2 separate regions of the Homo sapiens genome follow, and region 2 is linked to region 1. The links come from fine-mapping of genetic effects on gene expression. A gene starts in region 1. The other region holds a variant in brackets. All regions are shown on one strand. Distances are between the middles of the regions. Region 1 holds the start of RAB13 (RAB13, member RAS oncogene family). Region 2 has its middle 19 kb from the start of HAX1.

The links. PIP is the estimated chance that this variant, and not a neighbour inherited with it, causes the effect. A credible set is the group of variants that fine-mapping cannot tell apart.
Region 2: its variant is the best candidate, but not a certain one, in a credible set for the expression of RAB13 in blood mononuclear cells (TOPMed, PIP 0.64).

The regions. Positions count from the first base shown.
Region 1 is chr1:153,983,750-153,989,121 of GRCh38, reverse strand. It overlaps RAB13 (RAB13, member RAS oncogene family), which reads left to right and starts at 2,783. Exons shown (of 8, transcript NM_002870.5): 1 at 2,783-3,009; 2 at 4,341-4,401. The coding sequence starts at 2,886. RefSeq lists a silencer at 2,699-2,868 and enhancers at 2,680-3,181, 3,495-3,724.
Region 2 is chr1:154,289,174-154,294,545 of GRCh38, reverse strand. No RefSeq gene overlaps it. Among named protein-coding and RNA genes, the nearest start is that of HAX1, 19 kb to the right of the region's middle. The variant T/C (reference allele first, on the strand shown) is at 2,790.

The DNA of each region.
Region 1 (5,372 bases):
CGTCTCGACTAAAAAAAAAAAAAAAAAAAAAAAATTTAGCTGGGCGTCGTGGCAGGCGCCTGTAATCCCAGCTACTCGGGAAGCTGAGGCTGGAGAATCGCTTGAACCCAAGAGGCGGAGGTTGCAGTGACCAGAGATTGAGCCATTGCACTTCTGCCTGGGTGACGAGCAAAACTTTGTCTCAAAAAATAAAATAAAAGTAAAAACAAAGGTTGGGCGCAGTGGCTCACGCCTGTAATCCCAGGCCTTTGGGAGGCAGAGGTGGGTGGATCACCTGAGGTCGGGAGTTCGAGAGCAGCCTGACCAACATGGAGAAAGCTCGTCTCTACTAAAAATACAAAATTAGCAGGGGGTAGTGCGGGTGTCTGTAATTTCAGCTACTCGCGAGGCTGAGGCAGGAGAATCGCTTGAACCAGGGAGGCGGAAGCTGCGGTTAGCCCAGATCACACCATTGCACCCCAGCCTACGCAACAAGAGCGAAACTCCACCTCAAAATAAACAATAAAAATTAAAAAAATAAAAATAAAAATAGGCCGGGCGCGGTGGCTTACGCCTGTAAACCCAGCACTTTGGGAGGCCAAGGCGGGCAGATCACGAGGTCAGGAGATCAAAACCATCCTGGCTAACACGGTGAAACCCCGTCTCTCCCTAAAATACAAAAAATTAGCCGGGTGGTGGCGGGCGCCTGTAGTCCCAGCTACTCAGGAGGCTGAGGCGGGAGAATGGCGTGAACCCAGGAGGCGGAGCTTGCAGTGAACCGAGATCGCGCCACTGCACCCCAGCCTAGGTCGACAGAGCAAGACTCCGTCTCAAAAAAAAAAAAAAAATAGGGCCAGGCGTGGTGGCTCACGACTGTAATCCCAGCACTTTGGGAGGCCGAGGCGGGCGGATCAGAAGGTCAAGAGATCGAGACCATCTGGCCAACATGGTGAAACCCCATCTCTACTAAAAATACAAAAATTAGCTGGGCGTGGTGTCGGGCACCTGTAATCCCAGAGGATTACAGGTACTCCAGAGGCTGAGGCACAAGAATCGCTTGAATTCGGGAGGCGGAGGTTGCAGTGAGCCGAGATTGCGCCACTGCACTCCAGCCTGGCGACAGAGCAAGACTCTGTCTCAAAAAAATTAATTAATTAATTAAAAAATAAATAAAAAATTTTTTTGAAACAGGATCTTACTCTATCACCGAGGCTGGAGAGCAGTGGCATCATAATCGTGGCTCACTACAGCCTTGGACTCTTGGGCTCAAGTGTTCTGCCCACTTCTGTCCCCCAAGTAGCTGCGGCTGGGACTACAGGCCACACCACCATGTATGGCTAATTTTTTTTTTTTTTTTTTTTTTTTTTTGTCGAAGCAGTCTCACTATGTTGCCCAAGCTGGTCTTGAACTCCTGGGCTTAAGGGATCCTCTCACGTTGGCCTCCCAAAGTGCTGGGATTACAAGTGTGAGCCACCGCAACAGGTCTTAGATAATATTTTCTTTCTTTCGTGTTTCGTATTTTTTTCCACCCCCAGCACACATATAGCAAGAATAATTTTTTTCTAAAGGCAGAGATAAACTTGTTTCTCTTTTACTCTCTTTCTTTCTTTCTTTTTTTTTTTTTTTTGAGACGGAGTCTGGCTCTGTCGCCCAAGCTGGAGTGCAGTGGCGCAATCTCGGCTCACTGCAAGCTCTGCCTCCCGGGTTCACGCCATTCTCCTGCCTCAGCCTCCCAAGTGGCTAGGACTACAGTCGCCTGCCACCACGCCCGGCTAATTTTGTGTGTGTGTGTGTATTTTTAGTAGAGATGGGGTTTCACCATGTTAGCCAGGATGGTCTCGATCTCCTGACCTCGTGATCCGCCCGCCTCGGCCTCCCAAAGTGCTGGGATTACAGGCGTGAGCCACCGCGCCCGGCAAACTTGTTTCTTTATACCCGTGCTGTTCATATTTCAGCTTCCTGGTTACCAAGGCTACACATTCATGGCCTATTGAGTGAGATTTCAGGAGTACTGCACCTTAAGTGGGCCATATTAAAAGATTCACGTAAAGAATGACATTTTTAGTTCAAATCTCTGTTTTCCTAAGCTATTTGGTCAGAGAAATCACACATGGGTCCCCATAAGAGAGATCGTTCCAACTGAAGCCCCAGGATGTGTCTAGGTAGGCTGTGTGTGTTGGGGTGGTGGGGCCGATTCTGTATAACTAATTTACGTTTTCACCCTGTTCCACCAGGGGGCAGACTGACTCAACAAATAACCTACTTCTGCGCATCCCGCTTTTTTCAAAGTGAATTGGGACCCATAGAACTAAGGGCTTGGACAACTAACAGTAAAATTCTAGGACTGCCTTTTACTCAGCCCCAGAAACCGATGATAACTCATCTTCTAGCTTCGTTGAATAGCATCTCCAAAACTCAGCCCCATTTTTTTTTTTCAATTTCTAGTGCTCTCCCTACCTTCACCCTTATTCCCAAAACTCTTGGTTCTCTTCCCCTAATCCCTCTAAAATTTCTCTTCTAAAATTTCTGGTCGTCGTGGTTAAACCTCTACTTCCCTTCACCCCAGCCTCTCTGGCCTCAGAATGGAAGAGTAAGGTCCTAAGAGGGGAGCTACAATTACCGAAAGGCTGTGGAAAATAGCGAGAGAGACAGGCCGGCCTAAGCTAGGAAGGGAAAACCGAGAGAACAGAGGCCGGGCTGGCAGCCTTGGCCTGCTCAAAAGGGTGGGCGGGCAGGGGGTGGAGCCCGGAGGGGTGCCGCCTCTCCTCTTTCCCGGAGCCTGGGCGGAGAGGGAGGAAAACTTCTTCCTGGCCTGGGCTCCGTGCCGCTCTGTTTGCCAACCGTCCAGTCCCGCCTACCAGTGCCGGGCGCTCCCCACCCCTCCCCCGGCTCCCCCGGTGTCCGCCATGGCCAAAGCCTACGACCACCTCTTCAAGTTGCTGCTGATCGGGGACTCGGGGGTGGGCAAGACTTGTCTGATCATTCGCTTTGCAGAGGACAACTTCAACAACACTTACATCTCCACCATCGGTGAGCCCGCTGGCCATGTCCCAGACCCCGACTCTCCTGTGACCTCCTTCTCCGGCTCCCGGATTACTAGTGACCCCACTTTTCAGTCCCCTTAGAGTAAGGCTCCTAAATTCTAGTCCCTCAACCCCTGGCTCTGACCCTTCCCCCGTGCATGTCTCTGTATAGTAACCAAACCTCTCACCTCTCTGAGGCCTTCAGGTAACTCTTCAACTGCTGCCAGCTCCTCATTTTCTTGGTACCATCGCCTTAGTCTCCCCAAATCCACAAGAACTCTTCTCTATTTTTCTCTGTTCCCCTCTTCCCCTACCCCCACCACCTAGAACTCTCTCGATCCTATCTCCATGTTTCCTGTATCCCTGTCCGCCACATCTTTTTCTCCCGATCCGATGCTAGCCTCTTTCTGTCTTGCTGAGCTTCAAACTCTCCCACTGTGTCCCCACCTCACCATCTACTTCCCAGGTTCCCTGCCCCAGTCTCCCTGCACCTCAGCTGAACAAGGGTTTGGGAAGGGTGGAACAAGGTGGCTGGGTGTGCTGGAGGGTGGCCCAAGGACTGTGATCATGAATATGCAGCCAGCTTGGTGAGGAACGTGGAAATGAGGGGACTTTTGGGGTCTCTGAGTCAGCCTGGTGACTCATCCTCCTCCCAGGGGCCCCCAGCAGGCTTGGGGGAGGTGCCCAAGTTTCTACTAAGAAGAACATTGTCTCCCCTCCTCCCTTCTCTTCTTTCTTCATCTCCTCTGGCTTGGGAAATAGACAGGAAGAGTCTCACGACAATTCTGGTTACAAAGGAAAAGGAAAAATGCCCCTCTTTCCTAATTGTCTCAAAAGTAATCCTGTTTAGCCTCAGACTTTCCTAGTGCCAAGTTTGGCCCACTAGTTAATTCACATAGACTGGCTTCAGCTACTTTTTTCCTTACTCTCTACTAGGAGGGTAGGTGGGATACCAAGAGTAGAGGGCTCTAAGAAAACAGAGAAGAGGAATGTGAAAGTAATATCTGGGGGGAGACAGAGACTGAATTCAGAGAGTTGTCAGCTGGTATAACTGAATGGACCCAAGAGGCAGCCTAAGGATTTTAAGCCTCCATGCAGAATTTTCGTCACCTTTTCCCTCCCAAAATCCATAAAATGTACGTAAAAATAGTATTCTTGCTATACAAATACAGCTTTGGGAAAATTCTCCTAGCTTGGCATTTCCAACAAGATTGTTCCCCAAGTGCCTCCCCTGCAGAATTTCTGGTGCCAGCACTGCTCCGTTCCTGTCCCTTCCATCACACAGTTTTACATGTGTGCATGCATGTCTCAACTTCAGTGCATACCTTCCACCCCTAGGAATTGATTTCAAGATCCGCACTGTGGATATAGAGGGGAAGAAGATCAAACTACAAGTCTGGTAAGTCAGTCCTCTGGGATGCCTCGCCAGACTTCCCCATTTACCTCCTACACGTTTTTCCTTCTATTTTGTTTCATTTCTCTTCCTTTCCCCATTGCTCCTTCTAGAAGTGCTAGAAGGAGCACTTCTGGCATTTCTCCGGATGCACTCAGCTGTCCTTCCATCTCTCTTCCTGCTCTCCCAACTAGTTCCAACTCTTTTGTAACTCTTGCCTCCTCTGGCTGCAGAGCATCCTCTTAATTTGACAACAAACAACTGTTCAGTCATAACATGGAAACAGGCTGTGAGCAGTTAAATGGCAAAGGCAGAATTAAGACTTGACTCTAAGTCTAGTGTTTTCTCCAAAATATGGTGAGCCCAGAGAGCCAAATATAGACCCTGAAGGTGTTTAAGTGGTATGAAGCTTAGTGGAGGCATTATGCTATGACATATAAGAGCAGACTGGTGCGCAAATCTGGTTCTTTTAGTTATCTCCTGCCTGACCTTCATTAATTATTCAGCCTATCCAAATCTGTTTCCTCTTTTTTTTTTTTTTTTTTTTTTGAGACAGAGTTTTGCTCTTGTCACCCAGGCTGGAGTGCAATGGCACAATCTAGGCTCACTTTAACCTCCGCCTCCTGGGTTCAAGTGATTCTCCGACCTCAGCCTCCCAAGTAGCTGGGATTACAGGCGCCCGCCACTAGGCCGGGCTAATTTTTGTATTTTTAGTAGAGACGAGGTTTCACCATGTTGGCCAGGCTGGTCTTGAACTCCTGACCTCAGGTGATCCACCCGCCTCAGCCTCCCAAAGTGTTGGGATTATAGACGCAAGCCACGGCACCTGGCGTGTTTCCTCATTTTTAAAATAGAGACAATAATACATGTCTTACAAGGAAAGAGTAAGGATTAGATAAAATGATACATACACAGTGCTTGACACATAGCAAACATTCAATGAATAAGCAAAGACATCTTGTTTCTTGGGCCACTAC
Region 2 (5,372 bases), 310 kb before region 1:
CATTTAGTAAAATTTTCATTTCAGTTATTTTACTTTATAATTCTAGAATTTCTGTTTGATTCTTTTTTTATAGCTTCTATTTCTCTGTTGAGATTCCATATTTATTGAGTCATTGTTAAACATTTTTATTTAATTCCTTGAACATATTTATAATATGTGCTTTAAAGTCTTTGTCTGCCAAATTCAACTTCTGGGCCTACTCAGAGTCAGTTTTTATTTTTATTTATTTTTTTTTTTTTTGAGACAGAGTCTCACTCTATCACCCAGGCTGGAGTGCAGTGGTGCCATCTCGGCTCACTGCAAGCCCCGCTTCCCAGGTTCACACCATTCTCCTGCCTCAGCCTCCCAAGTAGCTGGGACTACAGGCGCCCGCCACAATGCCCGGCTAATTTTTTTGTTAGCCAGGATGGTCTTGATCTCCTGAGCTCGTGATCTGCCAGCCTCGGCCTCCCAAAGTGCTGGGATTACAGGTGTGAGCTACTGTGCCTGGACTCAGTTTTTATTTTGTTTTTTATTGTTTTTTTTTTTGGAGACAGAGTGTTGCTCTGTCACCCAGGCTGGAGTGCAGTGGAATGATCTCAGCTCACTGCAACCTCCGCCTCCCAGGTTCAAGCAATTCTCCTGCCTCAGCCTCCCCAGTAGCTAGGATTATAGGCGCCCACCACCATGCCTGACTAATTTTTGTATTTTTAGTAGTGACAGGGTTTCATCATGTTGGCCAGGCTGGTCTCAAACACCTGACCTCAGGTGATCCACCCGCCTCGGCCTCTCAAAGTGCTGGGATTACAGGCGTGAGCCACTGCACCCGGCTAGTTTTCATTGACTTTTAAAATCAGGATATGAGTTACTGTTTTTTAGGTTTCTTCGCATGTGTCATAATTTTTTTCTTGAAAACTGATCATTTTATCCTCTTCCTCCTCTAAAAAACTGGTCATTTTAGATAATAGACTGTAATAACTCTGGATTCTGTTGTATTTTTCCGAAAGGTGGTGATGCTGGTGATGCTGATGGGGTGTGTGTGTGTGTGTGTGTGTGTGTGTGTGTAATTTGGAGTTAAACCGTAGAGTCTGGATTCTATTGTATTTTTCTGAATGGTGGTGATGCTGGTGATGCTGATGTGTGTGTGTGTGTCATTTGTCTGGAGTTAAACTGTAGAGTCTATCATTCCACAGTGTGCAGCTGCTAATGTGTCTGCTCAGTTTTTATTCTCGTTTTTTTTGTTTGTTTGTTTGTTTTGTTTTGTTTTGTTTTGTTTTGTTTTGTTTTGTTTGAGATGGAGTTTTGCTTTTGTTGTCCAGGCTGGAGTGCAATGGCATGATCTTGGCTCACTGCAACCTCTGCCTCCAGGGGTCAAGTGATTCTCCTGCCTCAGCCTCCTGAGTAGTGAGTAGCTGGGATTACAGGCATGCACTACTATGCCTGGCTAATTCTGTATTTTTAGTAGAGACAGGGTTTCTCCATGTTGGTCAGGCTGGTCTTCAACTCCTGACCTCAGGTGATCTTCCCACCTCGGCCTCCGAAAGTGCTGGGATTACAGGCATGAGCCACCATGCCCGGCCATTTATTCTTGTTTTTAAAATTTTCCCACAGGGGTCAGGCATGGTGGCTCACCTTTAATCCCAGCACTTTTGGGAGGCCAAAGCGGCTTGAGCTCAGGAGTTTGAGACCAGCCTGGGCAACATACCAAGACCCCATCTCTACTAAAAATACAAAAACTTAGCAGGTAGTGGTGGCATGTACCTGTGGTCCCAGCTACTCATGAGCTGAAGTAGGAAGATTGCTTGCGACTGGGAGGCAGAGGTTGCAGTGAACCGAGATCATGCCACTATACTTCAGCCAGGGTGACAGAGTGAGACCCCTATCTCAAATAATAATAATAATAAATTTTTCCAGCCAGGTGCAGTGGCTCATGTCTGTAATCCCAGCACTTTGGGAGGCTAAGGTGGATGGATCACCTGAGGTCAGGAGTTTGAGGCCATCCTGGCAAACATGGCGATACCCCATCTCTACTAAAAATACAAAATTTAGCCGGGCATGGTGGCACCCAGCTATACTCTCAGCTACTCGGGAAGCTGAGGTAGGAGAATTGCTTGATCCTGGGAAGTGGAGGTTTCAGTGAGCCAAGATCGAGCCATTGCACTCCAGCCTGGGCGACAGAGTTAGACTCCGTCTCAAAAAAAAAAAAATGTTCCCTCAAGGATTAGAACAGGAATTAAAAGAAATTAAAGACTGTAGGCCGGTCGCAGTGGCTCATGCCTGTAATCTCAGCACTTTGGGAGGCTGAGGTGGGTGGATCACAAGGTCAGGAGTTTGAGACCAGCCTGGCTAACACGGTGAAACTCCATCTCTACTAAAAATACAAAAAAATTAGCCAGGCATGGTGGCGGGCACCTGTAGTCCCAGCTACTCGGGAGGCTGAGGCAGGAGAATGGCGTGAACCTGGGAAGCGGGGCTTGCAGTGAGCCAAGATGGCGCCACTGCCCTCCAGCTTGGGCAACAGAGTGAGACTCTGTCTCAAAAAAAAAAAAAAAATTAAAGACTGTGTAAGCAAAAACTCAGTTGTATGTAAGAAAACCCAATTCCCCCTTGAGGAACAGAAAGGGCTGGAGTCCTTTAAAATTAACTGCCTGTTTTTCTCTCTGTGGCTAGTGAGCCTTATCTCTCCATTTACCAGGCATTGTGAAGACTCTGTTTCTCTAGCTGTGCAGCTGCAAGGTCACTAGACAGATAATCTCAAGTCGTAAAACATGTTGTTCCTTGAACAGTAAGAAATAATGTAATGCATGCCT[T/C]AACTGAATAACTGTCTTTGTCTCTCGCTTCTATAATACGCTTCCCCCCGCACAGATCTCCCCCCACCCCACGAAATGCTTAAAAGGTAGCTTGACTCTTTGTTCCAGGCTCAGTCCTTTGGATGTTAATCCAACTGGGTCAGTGAACCTAAATAATTAAATAACTCCTCCTCAATCCCTCGGTCTCTCTGATTCCTTAATTATCCCGCAGCAGTATCACCCCTATGCTTACATAGCACAGTGTTCAGCCAATGATTAGAATAAGCATTGTGTTCCAACACCTCAAGCCCATATAGCATCCACTTCTGCCAATATATCTGTTTGAAGGATGAGAAGTGTATTAAAATGTGCAGCAGTGTTCAAGTCTTCCTTGTCTTTTATTTTTCAGGGAGCTCTCTGAGCTATCCTCCATGCATATGATAGTTTCCCAGTGAGCCAGGGATGTGGGAGAGCTTATCTCAGCCCTTTTGTAGTTTCCTATTTTCCAGCTAAATTTCTGGCTTTTCCACCACTGAACACAACTAGGAGTGCTACTTTGAGTTAGTACAGCTAGAGGGTTTTTTGCCTGTTTATTTCCTACCAACTTCATATCATTCAGCTGAGAACATTGTAGGCTTTTGTCCGCCTCCACCTAACTAACTCCTACAATTTCAGTCTACCCACTGTGACAGCAAACATTGCTGATTTTCACAGCCAGTTCCATACTGGTAAAACTACAGTTCCCAGCCACCAAGGAAGTTGGATGGGAGCAGCCTCAGGCAAGAAGGCTGCAAACTCACATTGCTTTTGCTTGAAGCTGTAGCAGTTTTTCAAGAATAAAAGCTCCTCAATTTGTTTTCTGCCTTGCTCAGTTTCCAGAGACTTGAAATCATTGTTTGGGGCAATTTTATTTAATTTCATAGTTTTTTTGGTGAAGATTCACAGATCCCTTTACACTGCTATAGCCAGAAGTTCCTTGGTGTAGTTTTTATTTATTTATTTATTTTAATGTATCTTATTTTTATTTTTATTTTTTTTGAGACAGTCTCGCTGTGTTGTCCAGGCTGGAGTGCAATGGTGTGATCTCGGCTCACCGCAACCTCTTCCTTCAAGGTTCAAGCGATTCTCCTGCCTCAGCCTCCCAAGTAGCTAGGATTACAGGTGCCTGCCACCATGCCCAGGTAATTTTGTATTTTTAGTAGAGATAGGGTTTCACCATGTTGGCCAGGCTGGTCTCAAACTCCGGACCTCAGGTGATCTGCTGCCTCGGCCTCCCAAAGTGCTGGGATTACAGGCATGAACCCCGCGCACGTTCCTTGGTGTAGTTTTAAATTGACATGAGTGTTACTGTGCAAACAATATGGTTTTGTTTTTTCACTCATTACTATTTTTAAGATCTCTCCATGTTGTCTTTTGAATATTTTGTATATCTGCTGAGTAGCATTCTATACTATGCAACTCCCATATTTAACCTTTCTTTTTCTTTCTTTCTTTCTTTTTTTTTGAGATGGAGTCTCGCTCTGTTGCCCAGGCTGGAGTGCAATGGCGTGATCTCAGCTCACTGCAACCTCCATCTCCCAGGTTCTAGCGATTCTCTTGCCTCAGCCTCCCAAGTAGCTGGGACTACAGGCGCCTGCCACCATGCCCAGCTAATTTTTGTATTTTTAGTAGGGACAGGGTTTCACCGTGTTGACCAGGCTGGTCTCGAACTCCGGACCTCAGGTGATCTGCTCTCCTTAGCCTCCCAAAGTGCTGGGATTACAGGCGTGAGCCACTGCACCAGGCTTATATTTAACCTTTCTACTTTGCTAATGAAAGTCACCCAAAACTGAGTTCTAACATTGAGCTTCCACAAATAATGCTGTGATAAATATTCTTGCATGTGACCCCTTATGAATCTAGACACAAGTTTCTCTGTAACGTATATGAAGGAGTTGAGGACTAAACTCTAATTTTTTTTATCTTGCCCAAATTCCTATCTAAGGGATCTGGGGAGTCATGACCTACAAATCATAAATTCTCATCAGATAGGTTTTATTTAACCCTATATATCATGATTTACTTTCCAACCTGACTCTGGTATAACATTACGAGACAAAGAAGAAAATCAAAATATTTTACCCCAAAACATGTTTCTTTGTCATATTTTAAAATGCCCCTGCAAAGCTGTTCTTTGTGGGGAAAATCTACATCCATAAAGAATCTCTATTAACATAGCCAGGGCTGGGGGCGGTGTCTCATGCTTGTAATCCCAGCACTTTGGGAGGCTGAGGCAGGAAAATCACTTGAACCCAAGAGTTGGAGGCTGCAGTGAGTGGAGATCGCGCCATTGCACTCCAGCTTGGGAGACAGAGCGAGGCTCCATCTCAAAAAAAAAATATATATATATATATATATTTATACATAAATACATATATATAAAAATACATATACATATACATATATATAAATATATATATGTGTATATATATATACATCTTTTTCTTCCAGATCCTCCCAATCCTAAAGAGACTAACTGAGATCTGAATAGGAAACATTTGTCACCTATTGTCTCCAAGGCAGCCATTATGAGACTTCAAAAGAGCTTTGGTCTCCACAATCTTT